Homo sapiens: one gene and its partner. Changing the gene in region 2 together with the main gene of any one other region gives a genetic interaction. Each region holds a gene or a part of one and is shown on either strand. Other genes may lie near its edges. The genes, in order: HIF1A and TGFB1.

Region 1 (15,433 bases), on a different chromosome or scaffold from region 2:
TATATTCCTAAAATAATGCTTCTAAAATTACTCAATTATTGAAATCTACATGAAAAAAAGGATGTTAATAGCGACAAAGTGCATAAAATCAAACATTGTATTTTGAGCAAATTAACATACTAGGCAATTTTGCTAAGAATGCATGATTTTTTTTTTCTTGTTTACAGTCTGCTCAAAATATCTTTATACCAACAGGGTAGGCAGAACATTTAGGTTTAATATCAGTTACACAATATTAGCATAAACTTCCACAACTACATAGGGTATTGTTTTCTTTTGAGCTGGCAAAGTGACTATAGAAACATCAGATGATTTCTCTGAATTGAGAATTTTATCCAAATAAATGCCACATACCTTCTAGATATATGCATATCTTTCTATATTATGTAAATGGCTTTACCCATTTAAATAATAAACCATACAGCATTTAAGAATCATTATTATATGATTAACAATGTCATGTTCCAGGTTTAACAATTTCATAGGCCAAAAAAAATTTCTTCTTAAAAACTAGTTTTATAAACGCAGAATATATTCCATGAGTAACTGCTGGTATTTTTTAAGAAAATATATTGTGCAATTGTGGCTACCACGTACTGCTGGCAAAGCATTATTATTTATGTAAAATGTGAAAAAAAAGGTGTAAAAATTTTTCAACTGCCTATGATCATGATGAAAGGTTACTGCCTTCTTACAAAAATTATATTGGCATCTTCTTAAAAATAATTCGAAAAAGGGATAAACTCCCTAGCCAAAAATAAATAAATAAAAAGGTGCATTTTTTAAAATGATGCTACTGCAATGCAATGGTTTAAATACCAAAAAACTGAGAAAATGAGCTGTCTGTGATCCAGCATTAAAGAACATACTAAAAAAGAGCATTAATGTAAATTAAGTAGAAAGGGGATCAAAATTGAACTAACCAAGTTTGTGCAGTATTGTAGCCAGGCTTCTAAAATTAGATGTAGAAAATATAAATAGACTGCTTTAGGTAATGAGCCACCAGTGTCCAAAAAAAGGAATGAAATTAAGAAAAAGCTCAGTTAACTTGATCCAAAGCTCTGAGTAATTCTTCACCCTGCAGTAGGTTTCTGCTGCCTTGTATAGGAGCATTAACTTCACAATCATAACTGGTCAGCTGTGGTAATCCACTTTCATCCATTGATTGCCCCAGCAGTCTACATGCTAAATCTGAAAAACAAAAGAGATACCTAAGTATACATTCATCTAGTCAATGAATATTTATTAAACACCCACAATGTGTTAGGTATCATAGAAAATAAAGCAAAATTCTGGAAGGGTTTTTAGTTTACCTGGCAAAACCACAACTATGTTAAAAAGTAAGTATAATCCAGTGATACTGTTGCTGTGTCAGAAATGTTTACAGGATACAATAAAGGCACAAAGAAATAACAATTTGGAAAAAGGCATAAATATGGTGGGCATCAAAGCTGATGCCTGTAATCCTAGCACAGGCTGAGGCAGGAGGATCACTTGAGGCCAGGAGTTTGAAACCAGCCTAGGCAACATAGTGAGACCCCATCTCTACAAAAAGCAACCGGGTGTGGTGAGGCATGTCTGTAGTGCGAGCTACTCAGGAGGCTGAGGTAGGATGATTGCTTGAGCTTGAGCACAGGAGTTTGAGACTGCAGTGAGCTATGATCATGCCACTGCACTCCAGGCCTGGGCAACAGAGCGAGACCCTGTCTCAAAAAAAAAAAAAAAAAAAAAAGAAGTCATAAAAGTTCACAAATTTCAGCTTCTATCAATATTGACAGCACATGGACATAGAGAAATCAAAGAAAATTACTAAAAATGAAAAGCTCCACCTTGAAATGTTAATCTCTGTATTAAGACCATCACATGAAATACAACTGTACTTTTTTTTTTTTTTTTTTTTGAGGCAGAGTCTCACCCTTGTCGCCCAGGCTGGAGTGCAGTGGTGCCATCTTGGCTCACTGCAACCTCTGCCTTCCGGGTTCAAGCAATTCTCATGCCTCAGCCTCCCAAGTAGCTGGGATTACAGGCGCCCGCCACCACGCCCAGCTAATTTTTGTATTTTTAGTAGAGACGGGGTTTCACCATGGTGGCCAGGCTGGTCTCCAACTCCTGACCTCAGATGATCTGGCTGCCTCGGCCTCCCAAAGTGCTGGGATTACAGGTGTGAGCCACCGCGCCCAGCCACAACTTTACTTTTTAATCTTGCTAAGGAACCAAAGTCATTCTCACTTAGATTAAAGCTCCTAAATAAAAATGTTTCATGTATTTTGTCTTTGTGATGTTCAAGGTCAAAAAGAATAAACTAACCAGAGGGTATTAAAATAATTGTCTTTTGCTCCATTCCATTCTGTTCACTAGATTTGCATCCTTTTACACGTTTCCAAGAAAGTGATGTAGTAGCTGCATGATCGTCTGGCTGCTGTAATAATGTTCCCTATAAACAGTAAAGTTATTTCAAGTTTAGTTTGTTGAATTTTTTTTTTAAACAACCAAAAACCTTGAAATTGGTGTAAATTTAATAACATTATAGGCAGTTTCTTAAATACTACCCTAAATTATTTTGAATTCTTTCTTAAGTTATTTGTCATCCATTATGACCATTCTGTCTATAAATACTTTCCAGTTAATTTAGTTTGAAAATATCAGAATGTATTATACCACCATTGACTTACCCCAAAACATAGCAGTTCTTTTTTAAATATGAGATGGACTCTCACTCTCTTACCCAGGCTGGAGTGCAGTGGCCTGATCTCAGCTCATCGCAACCTCCACCTCCCGGGTTCAAGCTATTCTCCTGCCTCAGCCTCCAGAGTGGCTGGGATTATAGTTGTGCACCAACACGCCTGGCTAATTTTTGTATTTTTAGTAGAGACAGGGTTTCACCAAGTTGGCCAGGCTGGTCTCGAACTCCTGACCTCAAGTGATCCTCATCTTGGCCTCCCAAAGTGCTGGGATTACAGGCGTGAGGCACTGTGCCTGGCCAATAGCAGTTCTTTTAATAAGGCAAAGTAACTTAAAGGGAAGAGAATGAGATTGGTGGTGATATTCAGGGTGGAGTAAGGGGAGAACTTCACTTTTTAACTCAAAATACACTGGAATTGTTTGGAATTTTTATACCAAGAATGTATGTATTAAACATTTGTATTTTTAAAAACCAGTGCATACAGAGTAAAAAAACCCAATGTATAACTTCTGAAAATATAACTTTACTATTTGGAAGAAACGTGGAAACACACACACACACACACACACACACACACACACGAAATAGCACATTAGCTAGAAAAGCAAAACCTACTACTCATACTTACAATTCCTACTGCTTGAAAAAGTGAACCATCATGTTCCATTTTTCGCTTTCTCTGAGCATTCTGCAAAGCTAGTATCTTTGGATTTAGTTCTTCCTCAGGAACTGTAGTTCTGAAAAGAAAAAAATTCTAAATGAAAATATAGCGTTTTTAAAAAAAATATCCAGTGAGCGCTTTTAAAGAAAATACATAATTCTTTAGTTCTCCAATATTAAGGAATATAATATACATAAGATAACTTTCCTGATCACTAAAGTTTATCATCTTAAAAGTAAAAGCTTAATTTTTTTTTTTTTTTTTTGGTGAAACACGGTCTTACTCTGTCAGCCAGGCTGGAGTGCAGAGACGTGATCTCTGCTTACTGCAACCAAGCCCTGCCTCTGGAATCAAGTGATCCTCCCACCTCAGCCTCTCAAGTAGCTGGGATTATGACTAATTTATATATACATATTTTTGTAGAGACAGGATTTCACTATGTTGCTCAGGCTGGTCTCAAACTCCTGAGCGCAAGTGATCTGCCCACCTTGGCCTCCCAAAGTGCTGGGATTACAGGCGTGAGCACCTGGCCGTCAAAGCTTAATTTAACAGGAAATTTTCTACAGTATGCGTATCCCTATTTTATAAAATAGAGCTGAACACAACTAAATTGACACTATTGTAGAGTCAAAACAGTTAAATATTGTCCTTTTATTCCACCTAATATAACAATGCAGTGATATTGTTGGGACTATTGAAATACAAGATCAATCTCACATTCGTATAGCATTTTCAGTTTATAAAACATTTCAAGTTCATTAGTTCATTTTAACCTTACTTAAGTTCCCAAGACAGATAAGGCAGGCATATCATACCCATTTTATAAATTAGAACCCTGAGGCCTATTGGGTAACTTTCTCAAAGTCCTACTGCTCACTAGTTGCAATATGGAAGTACACTCTAGGTCTCCAGATCCCTACCTCCCCTCCCCTGCTCTTCCCACTATGCTATTTTTCACTCAGTATTGATCTGGTTATCAAACATGAACTATGTATATCTAAAATTAATATTAAATTGTGAAGAATTGTTCTAATGAGTAAAGTACATCAGCTTTGTTACATTATTTTGACTTTTCAAGACACCCCACAAACCAAATGCATAATCATAATGGCTCCTTGCTGTTCCAGACAGTTGAGAATGCCAAATAGGTAAGTGATCTTATTTTGCAGTTTTCTTTGGTTTTTAAAAAATTTCTCTAAAACTTCTATTATATAGACAGGGAAGTTTAAAAATTCTTATACAGATATATTGTCTTTATGAAATGTAACTCAGTCTATTATGTAAATATCATTGTAGTAGTAGTAGTACTTAGTAATTACGTTTTTAATGGTTTATCTTAATTTTTGAAATTCCTTTCATAAAAGTTTTCAGTGTACACTACATTGGAACTAATGTTTAAAAACAGTTGCTAGCTGGGCACAGTGGCTCACAACTGTCATCCCAGCACTTTGGGAGGCTGAGGCAGGTGGATCACCTGAGGTCGGGAGTTTGAGACCAGCCTGATCAACCTGGAGAAACACTGTCTCTACTAAAAATACAAAATTAGCTGGGTGTGGTGGTGCATGCCTGTAATCCCAGCTACTCGGGAGGCTGAGGCACGAGATTTGCTTGAACCAGCGAGGCGGCAGTTGCGGTGAGCCAAGATCCGAGATCACGCCATTGCACTCCAGCCTGGGCAACAAGAGCAAAACTCCGTCTCAAAAATAAATTGCTAAAGTGACTTGATGTGTTGTTACACTTTGGCTTTGACAAGTACAAGAGAACAGTTGTTCAGAAAACTGGATATCCCATCCTCTGTAGCTGATAGTAAACTGTAACTTATAAGTGATTGTCATTTTTACTACTGTATTCATGCATCTGTCAGTCCAACAACTTTTTTTTTTTTTTTTTTTTTTGAAACCGAGTTTCACTCTTCTCGCCCAGGCTGGAGTGCAATGGCACGATCTCGGCTCACTGCAGCCTCCACCTCCAGGGTTCAAGCAATTCTCCTGCCTCAACCTCCCAAAGTAGCTGGGATTACAGGCACGTGCCACCACGCCCAGCTAATTTTTGCATTTTTAGTAGACCGGGTTTCACCATGTTGGCCAGGCTGGTCTGAAACTCTTGGCCTCAGGTGATCCACCCGCTTCAGCCTCCCAAAGTGCTGAGATTACAGTGATGAGCCACTGCGCCCTGCCTCAACAACCATTTATTGAGGAAGTACTACACATTAGGTCATGAGCTAAGTATTAGTATCACTAAAATGCCCAAGACACTGTGATTGCCCTCGTGGAGCTCAGAGTCAAAAGTGAGTAAGTGACACAGTAAATAAAGTAATGTAAAGTACTTCTGAGTTCATCTAAAGCCCCAATGTCTTTTCCAAGCTTAGGGAAAAGACCTCTCCCAGCACTCTAGGTCAAGGTGGGAATGTTAGGCAGGGAAAAAAGCTATGTGTTCTGGCTACGACAGTGGTTCTTTCCTATTGCTATTGATATCTGGCTTAGTCTAGACATAGTAGAGAAGGAATCATTTCCCTTTTCCACACACTTATTAGATAAAACTTAATTTCTTCTAGCTATAGCCTCAAACTTAAAATATGTGAAATCCCCTTACAAATTATATACAGAAAGTATAACTTAAAAATTGGGTCATGTCCATATGTTTGTTTGAACTAGCTCCATAGAAGTAACAATTCATGCTTAGATTCCTGTTGTACAGTTTGAAAACCTATGTAGCCTGCAATATATATATAGCTAATGTTCTACAAATACGTAATGAAAAATAAAAGCAACTTTAATACAAGTTAACTATAATAAAATTTTAAAAGAGGGGCCTGTAAATATCTATATTGAATGCTGAAGATGGAAGGCTCAATTTGGAATGTGCAATTGGAAATAACCCTTAAATTGGAAGGGCTTTTCTTCAGATAAGCTTAAAAAAGAGCTCTAAGAAATGGAAGCATCTAAGTAGTGAGGGTAGTTAACTAGTCTGATTTAAACAACTGTAAGAACTTTAAACAAGTTCTGTAAACACATTTACAGTACTGAGCTGGATTTTATTTTAAAGGTGTCAGAAGACCCTCCTCCATTTAGATAGGTAATTTTAGAATTTATAATTATTTTAGAAAAAATAGGAGCGGGCATGGTGGCTCACACCTGTAATCCCAGCTCTTTCGGAGGCTGAGGCAGGCGGATCACCTGAAGTCGGGAGTTTGAGACCAGCCTGACCAACGTGGAGAAACCCTGTCTCTATGAAAAATACCAAAAAAATCAGCCGGGCGTGGTGGTGCATGCCTGTAATCCCAGCTACTCGGGAGGCTGAGGCAGGAGAATCTCTTGCACCCAGGAGGCAGAGGTTGCCGTGAGCTGAGATGGTGCCATGCCATTGCACTCCAGCCTGGGCGACAAAGCGAGACTCTGTCTCAAAAAAAAAAAAAAGAAAGAAAAAGAAAAAATATATGAGGTTAATTTAGAAAGTTTTTTGAGTTCTCAAGAATTTGCGTTAGGGCATATATATCAGAAAGTTTGCTATAAGTTTAAAAATCATGTACTATCACATACATTTATCTCAAAAATAATAAAAGAACTATAACTTGAATGTTACATATAAATACCTTTGACTCAAAGCGACAGATAACACGTTAGGGCTTCTTGGATGAGATTTTTCTGTCTGTTCTATGACTCCTTTTCCTGCTCTGTTTGGTGAGGCTGTCCGACTTTGAGTATCTCTATATGGTGATGATGTGGCACTAGTAGTTTCTTTATGTATGTGGGTAGGAGATGGAGATGCAATCAATATTTTAATGTCTTCCATACGGTCTTTTGTCACTGTTTTTAATTCATCAGTGGTGGCAGTGGTAGTGGTGGCATTAGCAGTAGGTTCTTGTATTTGAGTCTGCTGGAATACTGTAACTGTGCTTTGAGGACTTGCGCTTTCAGGGCTTGCGGAACTGCTTTCTAATGGTGACAACTGATCGAAGGAACGTAACTGGAAGTCATCATCCATTGGGATATAGGGAGCTAACATCTCCAAGTCTAAATCTGTGTCCTTTAAAACAGCAAATACATGAGTTTTTACAATGGCCACACCTTATAAATAAAAAACAAGTGAAACTCAAAGTCACTTCAGACTAAAAATTAATGAAATTTAATATAAAACAAATAAGTTCATATACCTGAGTAGAAAATGGGTTCTTTGCTTCTGTGTCTTCAGCAAAAAGTTTTTCTACCAATTCCAACTTGAATTCATTGACCATATCACTATCCACATAAAAACAATATTCACTGGGACTATTAGGCTGTAAAAAGAAATATGTTTACTATTTCCTGAAGAAGCTTCCATATACTTTGCTAGTTGTCAGAATTTTCAAACTAGATCTCAGAAAAACCAGAAAACACACAACCAAGTCCATCGTGTTTATCAAATTTTATTTAACTAGGCCGGGCTCAGTGGCTCACGCCTGTAATCCCAGCACTTTGGGAAGCCAAGGTGGAGGGATAATGAGGTCAAGAGATCGAGACCATCCTGGCCAACATGGTGAAACCTCGTCTCTACTAAAAATACAAAAATTAGCTAGGCATGGTGGCAAACGCCTGTAATCCCAGCTACTCAGGAGGCTGAGGCAGGAGAATCACTTGAACCTGGGAGGCAGAGGTTGCAGTGAGCCAAGATCATGCCACTGCACTCCAGCCTGGCGACAGAGTGAGACTCCATGTCAAAAAAAAAAAAAAAAAAAAAAATTTGTGAAAATAGTGACATTTTGAAGCTTATACTGGTAACTAATTTTGCCAATATATATATTTCTGACTATGTAATATAACATCATTTACAAAATTGAGATGAAAAGAAACACCTTATTCTAAAGAATAAAACCTATTTGGTAATTCACATCCCACAATGGTACCTAATTGACCAATTAACTAGATGCTACATTCACTGGAATTTACCTTTGAACTGAGAAGGCACACTCCTGTGGTGACTGAGCTACCTAAAAATCTCACTGTTACTGTCGGGGGTGGGAGTAGAAACCTAAGTTATTTTACCTGCATATACCTGAACGAATGTACATTATTACTATTTTAAGAGTTCTGGGCAAGAAGTTTAACAAAAAACTATAGCTGTGTATTCTAAACAAGAAATTTTGCTTTCCTCATTCTAACGTTTTTGTTAGATTTACTTTTGTTAGATAAAAACCAAGATGAATCAAACATTTTTTTTTCTGGGTAAATTAAGCAACCAGAGCATAGGATATATATTCATTCAACACAAGGCTGTGAGATGTCAAATCCCCTACTCTTAGCTTGTCAGTTTTATTCAACAAATACCTAATGTAGAATTATTTACCACTTATTAAAGCTTATTTATGCCTCATTTATCAAGTTATAATGTTCAGATCTAAGTTGCCCTACTCCTGAGCATATTTTTAGATGTAGGAAGCCCTAAAATGGAATCATTCTAGATTTAGAAATAGAGCCCTGTGTGATATCTCTAAGTCTTGGCCAGCCTAGCCTTTAAAGATTATTTTTGTGTTCATAGGACAATTAATATCAAGACAGATCCAGAATAAAAAAGACCAGTTACTAAGTATTTATTTTATGTAACACTTGTTATTTTCATATTATACTTACCCAAAATTTCAAAATAGTGATGGAAATTAGACTAAATTGGGCAAAGAATTTATAAGGTCCTTTCCCATTTAAACCCTCGTAAGTCTATTGCTACCAGACAGTTCTCCAACTCAAAGGGGTAATGGGCCAGGCATGGTAGCTCACGCCTGTAATCCTAGTACTTTGGGAGGCCAAGGCAGGAGGATCGCTTGAGCCCAGGAGTTTAAAACCAGCCTGAGCAACATAGTGAGAACCCCAACTCCACACACACACACAAAAAAAGGTTAAAAAATTAGCCAGGCATGGTGATGCAGGCCTGTAGTCCCAGCTACTTGGGAGGCTGAGGTGGGAGAATCATTTGAGCCTGGGAGGTTGAGGCTGTGATTGCACCACTGCACTCCAGCCTGGGTGATAGTGAGACTCTTTCTCAAAACAAAACAAAACACAATAAAACAAACTAAAAGGGGTAACAGGTATAGGCTGTAGCTACCTTGAGCACACTTAGTACTATTCTCTTTAAATGTCCAAATTCAAGATGTTTTTGTCCTACTGATATAAATAATAGAGAAACAATGTACGTTTCACCTTTTGGTTTATATTAAGCTAGTTTCTTCCCATGTTCCTGACTATCTTTGAGCCTAAAACATGTGCTCAGGTCTAGGTTAGGCAGTAGCTCTTGCAATAATTTTAAAGTGCTAAAATTCAAACACACACACAAATGTAATTTGTGGTTCAAATAAGTGTTTGAATCAAACTTATAAATACATTCTTGAATGTTAAAATCTGAAAGTTGTCCCTTTCTGATTATATCATGACACCTACCTCAGGTGAACTTTGTCTAGTGCTTCCATCGGAAGGACTAGGTGTCTGATCCTGAATCTGGGGCATGGTAAAAGAAAGTTCCAGTGACTCTGGATTTGGTTCTAATTTTAATGCAACTTCTTGATTGAGTGCAGGGTCAGCACTACTTCGAAGTGGCTTTGGCGTTTCAGCGGTGGGTAATGGAGACATTGCCAAATTTATATTCTGTAATTTTTCGTTGGGTGAGGGGAGCATTACATCATTATATAATGGTACTTCCTCAAGTTGCTGGTCATCAGTTTCTGTGTCTGTGGGGAAAAAATATGAGTCAATCTAAAGTATAGAAGGATTTTTTTTTTTTTTTACCCAAGACAGAGTCTTGCTCTGTTGCCCAGGCTGGAGTGCAATGGCGCAATCTTGGCTCACTGCAACCTCTGCCTCCCAGGTTCAAGCAATTCCCCTGCCTCAGCCTCCCAAGTAGCTGGGATTACAGGCGCACACCACCACGCCCAGCTAACTTTTGTATTTTTGGTAGAGACGGGGTTTCACCATGGTGGCCAGGCTGGTCTCGAACTCCTAACCTCAAGTGATCCACCCGCCTCGGCCTCCCAAAGTGCTGGGATTACAGGCGTGAGCCACTGCGCCCGGCCACAAGGATTTTCACATATAAAAAATTTATGTTCTTTTTCACAAAAGGTTTGTCTAATTCATCAAACAACAAAATGTCACCAAATTTTCCTTCATCAGAAAGTTTACATACAATAGTATAGTATAACCATAAGTCTGAGTTACCTTTACAATCCACTATTGATACCGCGTCTTAATCTCTATGGCATAAAAGACAAAAGGCAATACCAACCTTTTTATACATTAAAATGTTCTCTACTTTAAAATTGCAGTTTTCATCTTCAATGCTTGATGTTATAGTATGACTACTTTTTTATCCTTTAATGCAACAATGCCTACTTCCATATAACTCTGCTAAACTGTGGAGAAAATCTGACAGCAGGATACAGAAATAGAGTAGCCAGGAAAAATTTATGTGGGAAGAAGAAATACCTTAAGGACACTTTGAAGCACAATTTCCAACAGTATAAAAAAGCAAGAATGGTAAGAAATTACGGGGGCAAAAATATTTAAGCAAATACATTTAAGAAAACTATAAACATATATTAGCTTGTAATGTCCAAATGATTACCAACAAAAACCGTAAAGTAATGTTTAGTTGAAATGGGGCTTGTAGCAACAGACACAATTTAGGGGATTAACAAAAATAACTACTCACCGTTGCTGCCAAAATCTAAAGATATGATTGTGTCTCCAGCGGCTGGGGCCAGCAAAGTTAAAGCATCAGGTTCCTTCTTAAGTTTGTCAAAGAGGCTACTTGTATCTTCTGATTCAACTTTGGTGAATAGCTGAGTCATTTTCATATCTGAAGATTCAACCGGTTTAAGGACACATTCTGTTTGTTGAAGGGAGAAAATCAAGTCGTGCTGAATAATACCACTGTCAAAACAAGAGAAATTGGTAATTCACAAATGAGCACTTGATACAGTGAGGGGAAGGGAGACTGTGAAATGGTCTCTTAAAAAATTCTGCTTTATGGACAGGAACATTTCAAGATTTCTTGAGATGCATGATCACTCATGCGTACTGTGTCACATTTAGGGTTTTAAAATGCTAATACAAAATAAAGACCCAATAAAATCCACAGTATGCAACCATAAAAAAGAATGAAATAATGTCCTTTGCAGCAACATGGATGCATCCAGAGACCATTATCCTAAGTGAGATAACCCAGGAACAGAAAACCAAATGCTGCATGTTCTCACTTGTAAGTGGGAGCTAAACACTGGGTTACTTGTGGACATAAAGATGGCATCAATAGACACTGAGGACTACTAGGGGAGAGGGGCAAGGGTTGAACAACTGTTGGGTATTATGCTCACTACCTGGGTGACAGGATCAATTGTACCCCAAACCTCAGCATCACATGATATACCCATGTAACAAACCTATGCATGTATCCCCTGAATCAAAAATAAAAGTTGAAATTAAAAAAAAAATCCCCAGTACAAGATAATTTGACTAATTTCAGTTAAGAATTTCAGATATCCAGGCTGGGCGTGGTGGCTCATGCCTGTAATCCCAGGACTTTGGGAGGCTGAGGCGGGTGGATCGCTTGAGCCTGGGAGTTCAAGAGCCTGGCCAACATGGCAAAACCCTGTCTCTACTAAAAATACAAAAAATTAGCCCGGTGTGGTGGTGCACACCTGTAGTCCCAGCTACTTGGGAGGCTGAGGCATGAGAATCACTTGAGCTCGGGAAATGGAGTGAGCCAAGATCACGCCACTGCACTCCAGCCTGGGTGACAGTGAGACTCCATCTCAAAAAAAAAAAAGAAAAAAAGAATTTCAGATATCCTTTGAGAAGAGTAGTAATGGCAAGGCAATTTGTAGTCAAGTACATGAAAGACACCAACAAATCTTCAGAATTGTTGTGCTGACACACATTATGAAATTGGCACAAAAGAACTCTTTGGCATCAATATGTGAGGCATGATCTAAGGATAGTCCTAAAGATACACAGATAAATGATTAAGATCTTTCTAAGAGAGGGGCCATATTTTCTTTGGTGGTAAGAATATAAGGTGATACCACCTACAGGATACGGCTGAAGAGGGATGATGAGCAATAGTTTATCTTCACGTTTGGCTTAAATGTAAATTATTCCTTTAATTAACGTATTAAATGTTCACTATCTGAAATGAACTGATAATGCAAAGATTAAAATAGCCAACCCTTGACCTTAAGAAATTTATAACCCATTGTGAAAGTAGATATGTAAACAATTAAAATACACTGTGATAACTGCTAAAATAGAGAAGGCTTGCTTCACTGAGAAGCTAACAAGCTGATACTTGGGATCAAGTGGCATTTGCTAGGCAGACTGGGGTGTGAGGAAGAGAAAGACATTCCAAGTGGAAGATTCTTACATAATGGTAAAGTCACAAAAGAACTCTGTGGCACTAATATTAAAACATTAAAGGATGGTGTCAGAAGTAGCAAAAATAAAAACTGCCCAAAGTCTTCCTAAGAGGAGTGACCCTAGATTTTAAAGGGAAGGCTAAATCTCTAATGCGTGAGTATGATGGTAAACAAGGATGCTGTACACCTAGGCAAGTGTTTATCTTGGAAATGATAAAAAGATCGCTAAAATTCTAAGGAAAATAAGATGATGACATATCCACACTAGAAAGCTTAGCCTGGTAGTAATGGGCAAGATGGACTAGAATGTGGTAATAATGTGGACAGGTAGACTAGATGGGGCAGGAGTCTAGTAAAATAGATCAAATGAAAAATTAAATTTTGATGTACATAATATTCACAAGCCAAAGAGCTAAGTGAAGAGTTCATGAATATACAAGAGCCATGTATTACATCATATAGCTTATTAATCTCATAGAATTTCTTTTCTTTTTTAAATTATACTTTAAGTTCTAGGGTGCATGTGCACAACGTGCAGGTTTGTTACATATGTATACATGTGCCATGTTGGTGTGCTACATCCATTAACTCATCATTCACATTAAGTATATCTCCTAATGCTATCCCTCCCCCCTCCCTAATCTCATAGAATTTCATTTAATTTTCATTATAACCTTCTGAAGGATTATCTACATAGATGAAATTCAGAAAAATGAAGAGACTTCCCCAAGGTCAGGGAGCTAATGAGTGGTAGAGCTATGATACAAATCTAGGCCAGGATTCTTCCTACAAAAAGAACACAGCTGTCTTGAGATAGTATATGCCGATATCTGTATAATTAGACCAAACCAATCAATGGATCTGGTATTTTTTTCATGGTCTTTTTAAAAATAGGAGTGAAGGTATGGGGATAGACAACTACTGACAGTGTTTAGCAGCATCACTGTGGAATAGCTGGACTGGAAACCTAGGTCAGAGTATAGAAAATAATAATTTGGTAGCGATGTAAAAGAATTAAAATTTAGTTAATATTTATTATCTTATCTTCCTATAAATGAACAGAGTATCCAAAAAGAATTACTATTTGTTCCCCAAAAATGTTTATTTCTCAAACTTACTTACCTCACAACGTAATTCACACATACAATGCACTGTGGTTGAGAATTCTTGGTGTTATATATGACAGTTGCTTGAGTTTCAACCCAGACATATCCACCTCTTTTGGCAAGCATCCTGTACTGTCCTGTGGTGACTTGTCCTTTAGTAAACACTAGGGGGGAAAAGAAAAAGAATCATGCAGAGAAAATATTTTAACTTTGAATTTTCAATTAAATGAACAGATGCTGAATGTTCATCATTGTTTTGGAAAACAAATGTTTATTTAGTGGAATCAGTTGTAACTGCTTACATTCTGACAGTGCGTCCCAGAATAGCTGAAAATGTACCCATTTCCTTTTTCAAACCCCCTAAATAAAACTCCTTTGCTGCCAGTGAGCTAAGTGAAGAGTTCATGAATATACAATCTTCAGTAACTAAAATTCCTTTAATGACTTAGGTTGGTGTCAGATTAGAGAATAATCAATAGCCTTTTTCAAGAAAATGGTGCCACAATAACTTCCTTAAATTCTGACTATGGTTTCCAGAGAACCAAAGATGCTTTAAAAAGCTATATGTAGCATATTTAAATATAAATTGATACCACATTGTAAGTCTTTTGGCAATTTAAATTAAATACTGATTTGGGAGAAAGTACTAAATAAATGCTAATGATGGTATTATTTTGAGGATTGGGGTGTCCTGACTGCAGACTTGGATTTACTCTTGAGTTCAAGGCTGATCAGTCACACAAACTCAGTGATATTCAGGTATCCTCAAGCACAGTGGGAAGTCATGCATAGGTACAGATTAAACAGGTGAGATAGTCCAAAGTTTAACTTATCTTGGGGATCTTAACATTCATTTGAGTAAAATTCAGAATCAAATCTTATGTCAAAGGTACTTGTTTTGGGTGACTATAGTAAAAAATAATTTAATTGTACATTTTAAAGAAACTAAAAGAGGCCGGGTGCCAAGGCAGGTGGATAACCTGAGGTCAGGAGTTCGAGACCAGCCTGGCCAACATGGCAAAACCCTGTCTATACTAAAAATACAAAAATTAGCCAGGCATGGTGGTACATGCTTATAATCCCAGCTACTTGGGAGGATGAGGCAGGAGAATCTCTTGAACCCGGTAGGCGGGGGTTGCAGTGAGCTGAGATTGCTCCACTGCACTCCAGCCTGGGCGAGAGTGAGATCCTGTCTCAAAAGAAAAAAATAAAATAAAATAAAATAAAAATAACCAAAAGAGTATAACTGGATTGTTTGTCACACAAGATAATGCTTGAGGTGATAGGTACTCCATTTATCCTTATGCACTGCATGCCTATATCAAAATATTTCATGAACCCATAAATATAAATACCTAACTATGCACTTATAAGCATTTTTTAAAATGGTACTTATTACCAAAGGTGATGTTCACCACCTTCACATTCATTGATTGTACAAATACTTTCTGAGTGCCTTTTACATACCAACCACTGTTCTGAGTATTTATGTGAATTCTGAAAATTATGCTATTCAATACTCTATAATATTTGGATTTTCAAAAGTCTTTGTATTTAAAATGCCAGGAAGTTTTTTCTATGATTAAATGATTCTATTTTTACTGATATTT
Region 2 (15,433 bases):
TCAAAGAGGCCGGGTGCAGTGGCTCACGCCTGTAATCCCAGCACTTTGGGAGGCCAAGGCGGGTGGATCACCTGAGATCAGGAGATTGAGACCAGCCTGACCAACATGGCGAAACCCCGTCTCTACTAAAAATACAAAAATTAGCTGGGTGTGGCGGTGCTTGTCTGTAATCCCAGCTACTCAGGAGGCTGAGGCACAAGAATCTGCTTGAACCCAAGAAGCAGAGGTTGCAGTGAGCCAAGATCGTGCCACTGCACTCCACCCAGGGCAACAGGGTGAGACTCTGTCTTGAAAAGAAAAGAAAAAAGAAAGAAAAGAAAAGAAAAAGTTGACAATGCCTTTTTTTTTTTTTTTTTTTTTTGAGACAGAGTCTTGCTCCGTCACCCAGGCTGGAGTGCAGTGGTGCAATCTTGGCTCACTGCAACCTCTGCTCATAGATTGGTGGGGCCAGCCAGGCACGGTGGCTCACGCCTGTCATCCCGGCACTTTGGGAGGCTAGGGCAGGCAGACTTGAGGACCCTGTCTTTACTAAAAATTCAAAAATTAGCTGGACCTGGTGGCGGGCACCTGTAATCCCAGCTACTGGGGAGTCTGAGGCAGGAGAATCGCTTGAACCCAACTTCAAGTGGCACCGGATAACCTAGAGGCAAGATAAAGCCTTTCCAAGAGCCACAGAAGCCTGAGAAGGAAGTCAAGAAACTGAGATCCCTGTGAACTCAGCCCGTACCACCCAATTTGGTTGGACCTCAGTTTCCTCATCTGTTCAGAGGTAGGAGCTACTAGATAAAATAAGGTGTTAAGCTGAGGGCCAAGGGGCCATCATGGGCAGGCTTAGGGAGGGCCATGAGTGCCTGAGATCATATGCACATGTGTGTATGTATGCATGTATTTCTGGGAAAAAGAGTCCTGGCTTTCACTTTCTCACAGGAAGTTCTGAACTCACAAAAGGGGAAGAACTAGTGTCCGGAATCTTTTTTTTTTTTTGAGATGGAGTTTCCCTCCTGTTGCCCAGGCTGGAGTGCGATGGTGTGATCTCAGCTCACTGCAACCTCCGTCTCCCGGGTTCAAGCAATTCTCCTGCCTCAGCCTCTCAAGTACCTGGGATTACAGGCATGTGCCACCATGCCTGGCTAATTTTTTGTATTTTTAGTAGAGGCTGGGTTTCACCATGTTGGTCAGGCTGGTCTCAAACTCCTGACCTCAGGTGACCCACCCACCTCGGCCTCCCAAAGTGCTGGGATTACAGGCATGAGCCACCGCACCCGGCTCAGAATCATCTTTAATATGCAGTTCAACCCTAGCTGGGGTTCTGAGATCCTAGGATTTGAACAATCTGTGATACTGTTATCCAAGTCAGCAGCTCTCCACGTGAGCTCCCAGGACCAGCGGCAGCATCACCTGGGAACTATGGGAAATGCAGATTCTCAGGTGGCACCCCAGGCCACTGAAATCAGAAATTGTGTGCAGGACTGGGAACAACAGTCCGTGTTGAACAAGCCGTCTAGGTGATCCTCTGACTCATTTTTTCAGCACACATTCGGGGCCTACCCTGCACCGGGCCTTGGGATACCCACAGCCCTTGCCCTTGCCAAGCCTCTTCCGTCCAGTCTCTCAAGACCTAGGCCAGGTGCAGTGACTCACGCCTGTAATCTCAGCACTTTGGGAAGCCAAGACCGGTGAATCGCTTGAGCCCAAGGAGTTTAAGACCAGCCTGGGGAGCATAGTGAGACCCTGTCGCTACAAAACTTTTTATAAATAAAAGACCCAACAGAGACTGTTTGTTGAGTCAAAGATCTACTTAGGGCCCCAGGGGAGCCCAGAGGCCTCACATCCATCTTGGATGTTGGAGAAAGGGGTTAGGAAGGAGGTAGTGTTCGAGCTGCCTTAAGAACAAATTTTCCTATGAAAGTTTTTTTTTTTTTTTTTTGAGATGGAGTCTTGCTCTGTTGCCCCAGGCTGGAGTGCAGTGGTGCAATCTTGGCTCACTGCAACCTCCATGTCCCAAGTTCAAGCAATTCTCCTGGCTCAGCCTCCCAAGTAGCTGGGATTACAGGCACACACCACCATACCCAGCTAATTTTTCTGTATTTTTAGTAGAGACAGGGTTTCACCATGTTGGACAGGCTGGTCTCGAACTCCTGACCTCATGTGATCCACCCGCCTCAGCCTTCCAAAGTGCTGGGATTACAGGTGTGAGCCACCGCGTCCAGCTGGAAAGTTTCAGATGTACACAAAAGCAGCTTCAACAATGACCAACTCATGGCCAATTTCCATTGCATCTCTACCCCTATCCACTATCTCTTTTTTTTTTTTTTTTGAGACAGGATCTCACTCTGTCACCCAGGCTGGAGTGCAGTGGTGCAATCACAGCTCACTGTGGCCTCCAGCTCCTGGGGCTCAAGCCAACCTCCCACCTCAGCCTCCTGAGTAGCTGGGACAAAAGGTACACACCACCAGGCCCAGCTACTTTTCATATTTTTTTTTTTGGGAGATGGGGTTTCACCATATTGCCCAGGCTGGTCTCCAACTCTTAGGCTCAAGCAATCCTCCTGCCTTGGCCTCCCAAAGTGGTGGGATTATAGCTGTGAGCCACTGCAGCCAGCCGACAATGGTTTATCTCAAAGCACATGCAATCCACCGTGTTGCTTCATCCATAAATATTTCAAATGTATCTCTAATTAAGACTACTTTAAAACACAGTCACAATACCATGTAAGAAAATTAACAATTCCTTGATATCTAGAGGAATATCTAGACAGAGTTCACATTTACCCAACTGTCTCATAAATATCTTTTTTTTTTAAGCCTGTGTAAATAAGGATTCAAGTAAGGTCTACACATTGCAATTGGTTGATATGTCTCTTAGGATTTTTTTTTTTTTTTAATTTTTGAGATGGAGTCTCACTCTGTCACCCAGGATGCAGTGAAGTGGTGCAATCTCGGGTCACTGCAACCTGTGCCTCCCAGGTTCAAGTGATTCTCCTGCCTCAGTCTCCCAAGTAGCTAAGACTACAGGCGCCTGCCACCATACCCTGCTAATTTTTGTATTTTTAATTATTTATTTATTTTTTTGAGACGGGAGTCTCACTCTTGTTGCCCAGGCTGGAGTGCAATGGCGCGACCTCGGCTCACTGCAACCTCCACTTCCTGGGTTCAAGCAGTTCTCCTGCCTCAGCCTCAAGAGTAGCTGGGATTACAGGGCCCGCCACCACGCCTGGCTCATTTTTGAATTTTTAGTAGAGAGGAGGTTTCACCACGTTGGCCAGACTGGTCTCGAACTCCTGACCTCAGGTGGTCCACCCACCTTGGCCTCCCAAAGTGCTGGGATTACAGGTGTGAGCCACGACAGCTGGCCTGATTTTTGTATTTTTAGTACAGACAGGGTTTCACCATGTTGGCCAGGCTGGTCTCCAACTCCTGACCTCAAGTGATCCACCTGCCTCAGCCTCCCAAAGTGCTGGGATTACGGGTGTGAGCTACCATACCTGGCCTCTCTTAGGACTTTTTTCAAAATCTACAAAATCATCTCTCTCTCTCTCTGTATATATATTCAGGGTCAACTATATATAGACTGACCCTTGGACATGGGTTTGAACTACATGGGTCCTCTTACAAAATTCACCACTTACAGGTGAATTTTTCTTCCACCTCTGCCCTGAGACAGCAAGACCAACACCTTTTCTTCCTCCTCCTCAGCCTACTCAACATGAAGACCTTTATGATAAGCCACTTCCACTCAATGAATGGAAAATATACTTCCTCTTCCTTATGATTTTCTTAAGGACATTTTCTTTTCTCTATCTTATTTTTAAAATGCAGGCATAGGCCGGGAGCAGTGGTTCAAGCCTGTAAGGCCAGCACTTTGGGAGGCCGAGGCTGATGGATCACCTGAGGTCAGGAGTTCAAGACCAGCCTGGCCAACATGGTGAAACCCCGTCTCTACTAAAAATACAAAAATTACCCGGGTGCGATGGCGGATGCCTGAAATCACAGCTATTTGGGAGACTGAGGCAGGAGAATTGCTTGAACCTGGGAGGCGGAGGTTGCAGTGAGCTGAGATCACTTCACTGCACTCCAGCCTGGGTGACACAGCTAGACTCTGTCTCAAAAAAAAAAACAAAGAATACGGCCGGGTGCGTGGCTCACCCCTGCAATCCCAGCACTTTGGGAGGCTGAGGCGGGTAGATCACTTGAGGTCAGGAGTTCAAGACCAGCCTGGCCAACATGGTGAAACCCCACCTCTACTAAAAATACAAAAGTTAGCCGGGCATGGTGGCAGGTGCCTATAATCCCAACTACTCAGGAGGCTGAAGCAGGAGAATTGCTTGAACCCCCGGGAGGTGGAGGTTGCCGTGAGCTGAGATTGTGCCATTACACTCCAGCCTGAGTGACAACAGCGAAACTCCGTCTCAAAAAAAAAAAAAGGGGATATAGGACATAATACATAAAACATGCAAAATATGTATTATTCGGCCGGGAGCAGTGGCTCATGCCTGTAATCCTAGCACTTTGGGAGGCTGAGGTGGGCGGATTGCCTGACCTCAGGAGTTCAAGACCAGCCTGGGCAATACGGTGAAACCCCATCTCTACTAAAATACAAAAAATTAGCTGGGCGTGGCGGTGGGCACCTGTGGTCCCAGCTACTCGGGAGGCTGAAGCAAGAGAATCACTTGAACCCGGGAGGCAGAAGCTGCAGTGAGCCGAGACCGCACCACTGCACTCCAGCCTGAATGACAGAGACTCTGTCTCCAAAAAAAAAAAAAAGTATTAATCAACTGTTTATGTTGTGGATAAAGCAGAATTCCAGTCCACAGTAGGCTATTAATAGTTAAGTTTTTGGGGAGTCAAAACTTGTATGTGAATTTTTGGTTGCATGGGGGGTACGTGTGTGTGTGTGTGTGCTTTCCCCTTCTTTGCATTGTATTTGATGAAGAAACTGGGTGAGGTTTCTTGCAGTCTGAGTTTTGCTGACCATTTCCTCTGTTCCTGTCTTTCTAGAAAACTGTTAGGATCTACAGTCCTGATCAGATTCAGGTTTGATTTTTTTTTTTTTTTCCTGAGACAAGGTCCTGCTCTGTCCTGAAATGCAGTGGCGTGATCCTGGCTGACTGCAGCCACAACCTCCTAGGCTCAAGCACTCCTGCCTCAGCCTCCCAAGTAGCTGGGACTACAGGCACACACCACCCAGCCAGCTAGTTTTTTTGTATTTCTTGTACAGAGGCAGGGTTTTAACATGTTGCACAAGCTGGTCTTGAACTCCTAAGCTCAAGCGATCTGCCTGCCTTGGCCTCCCAAAGTGCTGGGATTACAGGCATGAGCCACCGCACCTGGCCTTCAGGTTTGATTTTTTGCCAAGACTTCCTAGGCAACATTGGGTCCCTCCCTACGGAGGCTGACATGGCTGGCTATCTCCCTTTGTAATGTCAGGAGCTGTTGGCACTCAAGACCTCAATTTGTGGCCGGGCGCAGTGGTTCATGCCTGTAATCCCAGCACTTTGGGAGGCCGAGGCGGGTGGATCACGAGGTCAGGAGTTCGAGACCAGCCTGACCAACATGGTGAAACCCAGTGTCTACTAAAAAAACCAAAAATTAGCCGGGTGTGGTGGCACACGCCTGTAATCCCAGCTACTCAGGAGGCTGAGGCAGGAGAATCACTTGAACCTGGGAGGCGGAGGTTGCAGTGAGCCGAGATCACGCCACTGCACTCCAGCCTGGGCAACAGAGCGAGACTCTGTCTCAAAAAAGACCTCAATTTGTTCATTGACAGCGTTGCTGGGCTGATGGCGCTAAGATCTGGTGGTGAAGGAGCCTGGGAGCAGGGCTGATTTTCTGGCAGGGAAACAGCCGGTAACAAAGCCCAGAGACAGGACCAAAATATTTTAAGCAAGGGAGGAATAAGGTCAGATGATCACTCTAAATTTACAACATTCTAACTCTCCATTTCAACTTTCTAGGAATCCAACATTTCAGCTTTCTTAGATTGCAGTATTAGCATTCCAGCATCTTATGATTCTAACATTCTGACAGCATCTTCAACTCTCTAGGATTCCCCCTTTCCAACCTTTGAGGATCTTGGCATTCCTGAATTCCAGTATGCCAGTATTGCATCCCAACATTCCAAAGTTCTGAGCCATCACTCAAGAGGTTCAAACTGACACTTTCTTTCTTTTTTTTTTTTTTTTTTTTTTTTAGATGGAGTCTCGCATCATTGCCCAGGCCGGAGTGCAGTGGCGCGATCTCGGTTCACTGCAACCTCCACCCCCGAGGTTCCAGTGATTCTCCTGCCCCAGCCTGGGTACCTGGATAGCCGTAATCCCAGCCGAGTAGCTGGGATTACAGGTGCCAGCCACCACACCTGGCTAATTTTTGTATTTTTAATAGAGATGGGGTTTCACCATGTTGGCCAGGCTGGTCTTGAACTCCAGACCTCAGGGATCCGCCCACCTCAGCCTCCCAAAGTGCTGGAATTATAGGCGTGAGCCACCGCGCCCAGCCTGCTGCCACTTTCTATTAATAAAATCCCAGCATTCTAATATTCTAACATTCCAACACTGAGTTCCAACATGCTGAGATACCAATATTCTGCTTTCTCCAACTCCAACATTTGTGGATGTGAATATTTCAAAACAGAATTCTACCACTGTGAGCCCAATATTCAAGGACTCCAATCTGCCAACACTGGTATCCACAATTGGCCAGTGGTGCAGGAATTCCACATGGGCCATCTTCCCATTTTGAATCCCCAAATTCTAGGATTCCAATGTTTCAGCTTTCCTTGAGTCCGACATTTTCCATTTCAGTAATTAACACCAAATTCTAGCATTCTAGAATCCCAGCATTCTAGAACCTCAACCTGCCAACAATTTAGGGATTCAAGATGGTGACCTTCCAACTTTGAATTCCAACAATCACAGGGTTCAACTTTCTAACATTCTGTGATTCCAACACTCCAGCAAGAAAGCAAGGCTGGGCGTGGTGGCTCACACCTGTAATCCCAGCACTTCGGGAGGCTGAGGCAGGCGGATCACGAGGTCAGGAGATCAAGACCATCCTGGCTAACATGGTGAAACCCAGTCTCTACTAAAGATACAAAAAATTAGGCCGGGCGCGTTGGCTCACGCCTGTAATCCCAGCACTTTGGGAGGCTGAGGTGGGTGTATCACGAGGTCAGGAGATGGAGACCATCCTGGCTAACACAGTGAAACCCCATCTCTACTAAAAATACAAAAAAATTAGCTGGGCGTGGTGGCACGTGCCTGTAGTCCTAGCTACTCGGGAGGCTGAGACAGGAGAATCGTGTGAACCCGGGAGGTGGAGCTTGCAGTGAATCAAGATAGCGCCACTGCACTCCAGCCCAGGTGACAGAGCGAGACTCTGTCTCAAAAAAAAAAAAAAAAAAAAAAAAAGGAACCTGATCCCAACATTACAAGACTCCCAGTTCTTTTTTTGTTTTTTGTGGCTGGGATTATAGGCGCCCACCACGCCTGGCTAATTTTTGGATTTTTAGTAGAGACGGGTTTCACCATGTTGGCCAGACAGGTCTCAAACTCCTCACTTCAGGTGATCCACCTGCCTCAGCCTCCCAAAGTGTTGGGATTACAGGCGTGAGCCACCGCACCTGGCACAAGACTCCTGGTTCTTACACCCAGACCTCATCCCCTGAGCCCTCCAAGCTAAAGGAGACAGATGCTCAGCCCAAGCACAGCAGCAGCCAGGTGTCCAACCTGGAGCACCTGGTCAGCAGATGGCAGTCATGCCCCCAGCCTGGAAGGCCTCCATCCAGGCTACAAGGCTCACCTGAAGCAATAGTTGGTGTCCAGGGCTCGGCGGTGCCGGGAGCTTTGCAGATGCTGGGCCCTCTCCAGCGGGGTGGCCATGAGAAGCAGGAAAGGCCGGTTCATGCCATGAATGGTGGCCAGGTCACCTCGGCGGCCGGTAGTGAACCCTGCTTTGGTGTGGGAGTCAGGGGATAGGGGACATACACACACACTCTCAGAGGGATAGATAAGTGGGGCGTGGGGCAGATGGGAACACACACACGCACACACGTCACAACTGGGCATGGCCGGGGAAGCAGGCCTCACCGTTGATGTCCACTTGCAGTGTGTTATCCCTGCTGTCACAGGAGCAGTGGGCGCTAAGGCGAAAGCCCTCAATTTCCCCTGTAGGAGTGGCGAGAGGGAAGCCAGTCTGAGAGTGCAGCTCACCCAGCCCCTGGAGGAAGAGGAAGGAAGGAGCAAACCCCAGGGGCTTCCTTCCTGCCTCCCCCACCCACCCCACTCTGCCCTCTCACTGCAGCTCTCTCTTTTTTTTTTTTTTTTTTTTTTTGAGACAAGGTCTCGCAGCCTCAATCTCCAAGGCCCAAGCAATCCTCCCATCTCAGCCTCCCGAGTAGCTGGGACCACAGGCGCGTGCTACCACGCATGGCTAATTTTTTTTTTTTTTTTGAGATGGAGTCTGGCTCTGTTGCCCAGGCTGGAGTTCAGTGGCGTGATATCAGCTCACTGCAACCTCCACCTCCCAGGTTCAAACGATTCTCCTGCCTCAGCCTCCCAAGTAGCTGGGATAACAGGCATGCGCCACCACACCCGGCTAATTTTTTGTATTTTTAGTAGAGATGGGGTTTCACCATGCTGGCCAGGCTGGTCTCAAACTCCTGACCTCAGGTGATCCGCCTGCCTTGGCATCCCAAAGTGCTGGGATTACAGGCTTGAGCCACTGCATCCGGCCTACACGGCTACTTTTTAAATTCTCTGTAGAGACAGAGGTCTCACTATGTTGCCCAGGCTGGGCTCAAGCAATCCTCCTGCCCTGGCCTCCCGAAGTGCTGGGATTACAGGCATGAGCCACTGCACCCAGCCAGCATCAATCTCTTGAATGAATGAGTGAATGATGTTTTCTAGGCTCCTACAATGTGCCGAAGCCTGTGCTGTGTGCTTGGGACTCAGCATTGACCAAGACAGATGAGCTCCTTCTAGGCCTTTGTCGAACAGCCCAGGACACTCCTCCCAGTGCCCACCTGCTCCCTAATCCCTATTTTTTCTTTTTCTTTTCTTTTTTTTTTTTGAGACGGAGTTTCACTGTTGTTGCCCAGGCTGGAGTGCAATGGCACGATCTTGGCTCACTGAAACCTCCACCTCCTGGGTTCAAGCAATTCTCCTGCCTCAGCCTCCCGAGTAGCTGGGATTACAGGCATGCATCACCACGCCGAGCTAATTATGTATTTTTAGTAGAGACGGGGTTTCTCCATGTTGGTCAGGCTGGTCTCGAACTCCCGATCTCAGGTGATCCACCCACCTCGGCCTCTCAAAGTGCTGGGATTACAGGCGTGAGCCACCATGCCAGGCCCCCTAATCCCTTTTTTTTCATGTGGCCAAACTACTATTTATCCTGTGAGTCTCCACACAATCACCCTCACCCAGCAAGCCCTCCTAGACTCCCCAGATGGGTCCAGGTGCCTTCTCTGGGCTCCCAACAGCACTTAGGGCGTTCCCCCATCCTGCATGCCTCCCTGTCCCAGCCTTGTCCTCCCTGCTGGTGCCTCCCCATCCCATTCTTGATCATTCTAGGTCATTCCTGCCTGGTGGGGCCTTGACAAGATCTCTTAGGTGTCCAGAAGTGACTGTGGGCCCCATGAGGGCAGAACTGAGGGCTGTCTTGGTTATCACTATGTCCCCCACACCACCCAGCACATGGCCAGGCACACAGCAGGAACCTGTGGGCAATTATTGAATAAAAGCATAAATGAGAGGGAGGTGAGGGAGAGAGATAGGGGCACCATGGGCCCTGCCAGAAACCAGACAGAGACAATCATCTCCTGGACAGATCAAATGAGTTAGTTAGGCTCTCCCTGGCCTCCAGGCCTTTGCACAGGCTGTTCCCTTTGCCTGGAATCTTTTTTTTTTTTTTTTTTTTGAGATGGGATCTCACTCTTTCATGTAGGCTGGATTGCAGTAGTGTGATTATGACTCACTGCAGCCTCGACCTCCCAGGCTCAGGTGATTCTCCCACCTCAGTCTCCCAAGCAGCTGGAACTACAGGCACGTAACAGCATGCATGGCTAATTTTTGTATTTTTGTGTAGAGACCGGGTTTCGCCATGTTGCCCAGGCTGCTCTCAAAACTCCTGAGCTCCAGTGATCCATCCTCCTTGGCCTTCAAAAGTGCTGGGATTATAGGCATAAGCCACCATGCCCAGCCCCAGAATACTCTTACACCTCTCCTTTTCCTGACCATTCTACTCATCCCTTCAACATCAGCTATGGTGCCCCTCCTCCAGGAAGCCCTCCCTGATTCTGGGCTGGGTCAGGTACCTCCTTTGGGCTCCCCATCCCAGTCCCACCCACTCTGGGTCATCACTGCCTTACAGGTCTGTTCCCCAGCTACCTAGCCAATGGACTATATGAGCTCTGTGAGGGCAAGGATGGGGCTGTTTTGGTCATTGCTGTGTCCTTGGCATCACCCATCACAGGGCAGGGCAGAGAGGTGCTCAGGAAACAGATTAGCCAATCACTCAGGTTTCCATGCCACAGAGGGGAGCCAGGTCTCAGCACTTTCACACCAGTATGGGGCGGAGAGGGGTCCTAGGCAAAGTGACCCCAGGACAAACAATGGGGTGGACCCCAGGGAGAAACAGGGGTGGGACACACAAGTAATCCTCACCTCCACGGCTCAACCACTGCCGCACAACTCCGGTGACATCAAAAGATAACCACTCTGGCGAGTCGCTGGGTGCCAGCAGCCGGTTGCTGAGGTATCGCCAGGAATTGTTGCTGTATTTCTAGAGGATGATGAAGGCAGGAGAGAGACAGTGGGTAGATGGTGTCACGACCCCACATACACTAACTGAATCCTTCACCCCATCTGCTTCCCCAAACAGGCTTCCAGAAAGTTCCCAGGCACTACCCTCTCAGACAGCCACCTGTGTGGTCCTGTGGCACCCATCCTCCCCAACAGTACCCATGAGAGGAGGGGTGGAGAAAAAGCTCAGGCTGCGGTCAAGTCACCTTCACACAGCTCAGCCGAAGGTGTTTTCTTGCCTTCTCGAGGCCTGTTTCCTCATTGGTGAAATGCTAAGCCCCACTCAGCGTGGACAGCCCACAATGCTAAAATTCTGCTGCTAACATTCTGGGCCGGGCGCAGTGGCTCACGCCTGTAATCCCAGCACTTTGGGAGCCCAAGGTGGGTGGATCACTTGAGGTCAGGAGTTCAAGACCAGCCTGGCCAACATAGTGAAACCCCATCTCTACTAAAAATACAAAAATTAGCCAGGCATGGTGGCACACGCCTGTAGTCGCCACTATTTGGGAGGCTGAGGCAGGAGAATTGCTTGAGCCCGGGAGACACAGACTGCAGTGAGCCAAGATCACGCCACTGCACTCCAGCCTGGGCGACAGGACGAGACTTCGTCTCAAAATAATAATAATAAATAAAATAAAATTCTGCTGCAAACATTCTGGGGTTTACTGAGCATACGGTTCTGCAAATTTGACACCCTGAATTCTCAGTAACTTAGAAGTCATTTCTAATGATTCCGGCTGGGCACGGTGGCTCACGCCTGTTATCCCAGCACTTTGGGAGGCCAAGGCGGGTGGATCTCCTGAGGTCAGGAGTTCAAGACCAGCCTGGCCAACAAAGTGAAACCTCGTCTCTACTAAAAATACAAAAATTAGCCAGGCGTGGTGGCACACGCCTGTAATCCCAGCTACTCAGGAGGCTGAGGCAGGAGAATCACTTGAACCCAAGACACAGAGGTTGCAGTGAGCCGAGATTGCACCACTGCACTCTAGCCAGGGTGACAGAGTGAGACTCTGTCTCAAAAAAAAAAAAAGTCATTTTGTGATTCAAATGTTTGATAATATCCCAAGATTTCCACTTCTAGAGCCTGAGAAGCTTTAGAAGACTAATGTTCTATAAACCCAAGAGTCTGCCATGCCGCACCTAGATGCTGCAGGTACCCAACATCTGTGTAGAATAATTTTCTGGGCCAGGCACAGTCGCTCACGCTTGTAATCCCAGCACTTTGGGAGGCCGAGGAGGGTGGATCACCAGAGGTCAGAAGTTCGAGACCAGCCTGACCAATATGGAGAAACACCGTCTCTACTAAAAATACAAAATTAGCTAGGTGTGGTGGTGCATGCCTGTAATCCCAGCTGCTCGGGTGGCTGAGGCAGGAGAATCGCTTGAACCCAGGAAGCAAAGGTTGTGGTGAGCCAAGATGGTGCCATTGCACTCCAGCCTGGGCAACAGGAGCAAAACTCCATCACACACACACACAAAAAAAAGAAGAATTTTCTGGGGCTGGATAGTCCACTCCAGGGACTGCAGAATAAAGCTGAATTCCCCAGACTCCAAGAAGCCAAGCTAACATAGGACAAAGTTCTCTCACTGTGAAAGTCTGAAATCTACCATCCTATGAGTTAACATTCCCTCTGATATGGATTCTAGCTCATAGAAACTGCTAGAGCCTCCAGCCCTTCCAGATGCCCCAGTCCTCTTGGAAGCTCCCTATCTTCTAGAGCAGTGCTGTCCTAAAGAACTTTCTGGAAATGTGCTTTATCTGCAACATCCAAAATAGTAGCTGCTAACCACATGTGACTATAGAGTACTAGAAATATGGCCAGTGAGAATGAGGATTTCTTTTTCATTTTTATTTTTTTGAGACAGAGTCTCGCTCTGTTGCCCAGGCTGGAGTGCAGTGGTATGATCTCCGCTCACTGCAGTCTCCACCTCCTGGGGTCAAGCGATTCTCCCACCTCAGCCTCCCAAGTAGCTGGGATTACAGGTGCCTGCCACCACACCTGGCTAATTTTTGTATTTTTAGTAGAGATGGAGTTTCGTCATGTTGGCCAGGCTGGTCTTGAACTCCTGACCTCAAGTGATCCACCCACCCTGGCCTCCCAAAGTGCTGGGATTGCAGGCATGAGCCACCACGCCTGGCCTATATATATATATTTTTGAGACGGTCTCGCTCCATCACCCAGGCTGGAATGCAGTGGTGCAATCACAGTTCACTACAGCCTCGACCTCCTGGGCTCAATCAATCCTCCCACCTCAGACTACTGAGTAGCTGGGACTAGAGGCACGCATCACCATAACAGGCTAATTTTAGTATTTTTTGTAGAGACGAAGTTTCAACATGTTGCCCAGACTGGTCTCGGACTCCTGGGCTCAAGCAATCTGCCTGCCTCGGCTTCCCAAAGTTCTGGGATTAGAGGTGTGAGCCACTATGCCTGGCCCTAAATTTTTAATTTAATTTTAAACAATTTAAATTTTAATCAAGCTAAATGTGACTAGTGGCTGTCATATTGGACAGAATGATTCTAGAGCCCCCAACCTTTTCAGAGATTCCAACTTTCAAGAATCCTGTGTCCTTAAAGAGTCCAACTCCTAAGATTCCAGCCTTCTAAGTGTTTAACATCCTAGGATGCAAAGAGTCTGAACATTTAAAAGTGCTCTAGGTTCCGGGTGCAGTGGCTCACACCTGTAATCCCAGCACTCTGGGAGGCTCAGGTAGGAGAATCACTTGAGGGCAGGAGTTTGAGACAAGCCTGGCCAACATGATAAAACTCTGTCTCTACTAAAAATACAAAAATTAGCCCAGCGTGTTGGCACATGCCTGTAATCCCAGCTACTCGGGTGGCTGAGGCAGGAGAATCACTTGAACCCAGGAGGCGGAGGTTGCAGTGAGCCGAGATCACCCCATTGTACTCCAGCCTGGGCGACAGAGCAAGACTCCATCTCAAAAAAAAAAAAAAAAAAAAAAGAGGCCAGGCGCAGTGGCTCACGCCTGTAATCTGAGCACTTTGGGAGACCGAGGCAGGTGGATCACGAGGTCAGGAGATCGAGACCATCCTGGCCAACATGGTAAAACCCCATCTCTACCAAAAATACAAAAATTAGCTGGGCGTGGTGGCGCACACCTGTAATCCCAGCTACTTGGGAGGCTGAGGCAGGAGAATCACTGGAACCCAGGAGGCGGAGATTGCAGTGAGCTGAGGTCATACCACTGCACTCCAGCTTGGCAACAGAGTGAGACACTGTCTCAAAAAAAAAAAAAAAGCGTTCTAGGATTGTATGGTTTGTGTTCTTCTATCCTTCAGGGACCATCTAGGTGGACCTTGTAACCAGCCGACCCACAGCCACCCCCTTGGTCACAGCTCACCCTCTCCAGCCCATGCCCTGACCTTCCTTCTGGCTCATGTCCTCACCTGGTACAGCTCCACGTGCTGCTCCACTTTTAACTTGAGCCTCAGCAGACGCAGCTCTGCCCGGGAGAGCAACACGGGTTCAGGTACCGCTTCTCGGAGCTCTGATGTGTTGAAGAACATATATATGCTGTGTGTACTCTGCTTGAACTTGTCATAGATTTCTAGCAGGGAGAAATGAAGGGAGGCGATCAGGGGTTTGGCAGAGGTGAGGGGAGCTGGTGCTCCCAACTCTAGGAGTTTTGGAGCTGACAGCTCTGGGGTGGAGTCAGTCTCTGATACCTTTTATTTATTTATTTATTTATTTATTTATTTATTTATTTATTTAAATGAATTTTTTTTTTTTTTTGAGACGGAGACTCGCTCTGTCACCCAGGCTTGGAGTGCAGTGGCGCAATCTCTGCTCACTGCAACCTCCGCCTCCAGGGTTCAAGCAATTCTCCTGCCTCAGCCTCCCGAGCAGCTGGGACTAAAGGCTCATGCCACCATGCCCAGCTAATTTTTGTATTTTTAGTAGAGATGGGGTTTCACCATGTTGGCCAGGATGGTCTCGATCTCCTGACCTCGTGATCCACCCGCCTCGGCCTCCCAAAGTGCTGGGATTACAGGTGTGAGCCACCACGCCCAGCCCTGACTGTGATACTTTTTAGCTGTGTGACCTTGAGGAAGTGGTTTCTCCCCCTAGGTTTGTTTCCTCCTCTGTAAAATAGGTCCTAACCACATTCCTCTCTCATGTAGCATCATCTCTCAAGTCGACTAAGGCTGGCACCAAGGGGAACCACTCTGTTTGCTCTGGCCTTCCTTGCCCCAAATGCAAGAGCCCCTAAAATGCAGAGTAAGGATCAAAGGCACAGGCTTTGGACTCAGATAGTGCCTCTGCTGCCTCTTGGCTGTGTGACCATGGGCAGTTAACACCCTCTTTCTGAATGTCAGTTTCCTGTTATTCTTTGAAAAACAGCAATAACATTAAGCTCCCTGCATTCCCACACAGACTCTCCTAATTTAAGCGCTGTGTAACCTTGGGCAAGTGAATTCCTCTCTCTGAGCCAGGTGTAAGACAAGACAGAGTGACTCTAGAACCCATTCCAGTATTATAGTGGGAAATTAGATGACCCAGGTCAAGCCATGTGGCACCAATTCTGCATACACTGGTCACTCAATCATGTATACGTCTAAGAGTGCTGGCTGGGCGCAGTGGCTCACGCCTGTAATCCCAGCACTTTGGGA

What was found.
Region 1: of TGFB1 (region 2) and HIF1A, changing one enhances a phenotype caused by changing the other (phenotypic enhancement), as found in Homo sapiens cells (one study listed by BioGRID).

What each region holds. Positions count from the first base shown.
Region 1 is NC_000014.9:61,732,692-61,748,124, reverse strand, and holds part of HIF1A (hypoxia-inducible factor 1-alpha), read right to left. Parts: intron 13,988-15,433; coding exon 13,840-13,987; intron 11,237-13,839; coding exon 11,016-11,236; intron 10,039-11,015; coding exon 9,752-10,038; intron 7,621-9,751; coding exon 7,498-7,620; intron 7,371-7,497; coding exon 6,937-7,370; intron 3,421-6,936; coding exon 3,312-3,420; intron 2,435-3,311; coding exon 2,308-2,434; intron 1,192-2,307; coding exon 1,040-1,191; 3' UTR 1-1,039.
Region 2 is NC_000019.10:41,334,086-41,349,518, forward strand, and holds part of TGFB1 (transforming growth factor beta-1 proprotein preproprotein), read right to left. Parts: intron 14,371-15,433; coding exon 14,210-14,370; intron 10,780-14,209; coding exon 10,662-10,779; intron 8,163-10,661; coding exon 8,085-8,162; intron 7,949-8,084; coding exon of another isoform or gene 7,946-7,948; coding exon 7,798-7,945; intron 1-7,797. UniProt on the Homo sapiens protein: Transforming growth factor beta-1 proprotein: Precursor of the Latency-associated peptide (LAP) and Transforming growth factor beta-1 (TGF-beta-1) chains, which constitute the regulatory and active subunit of TGF-beta-1, respectively.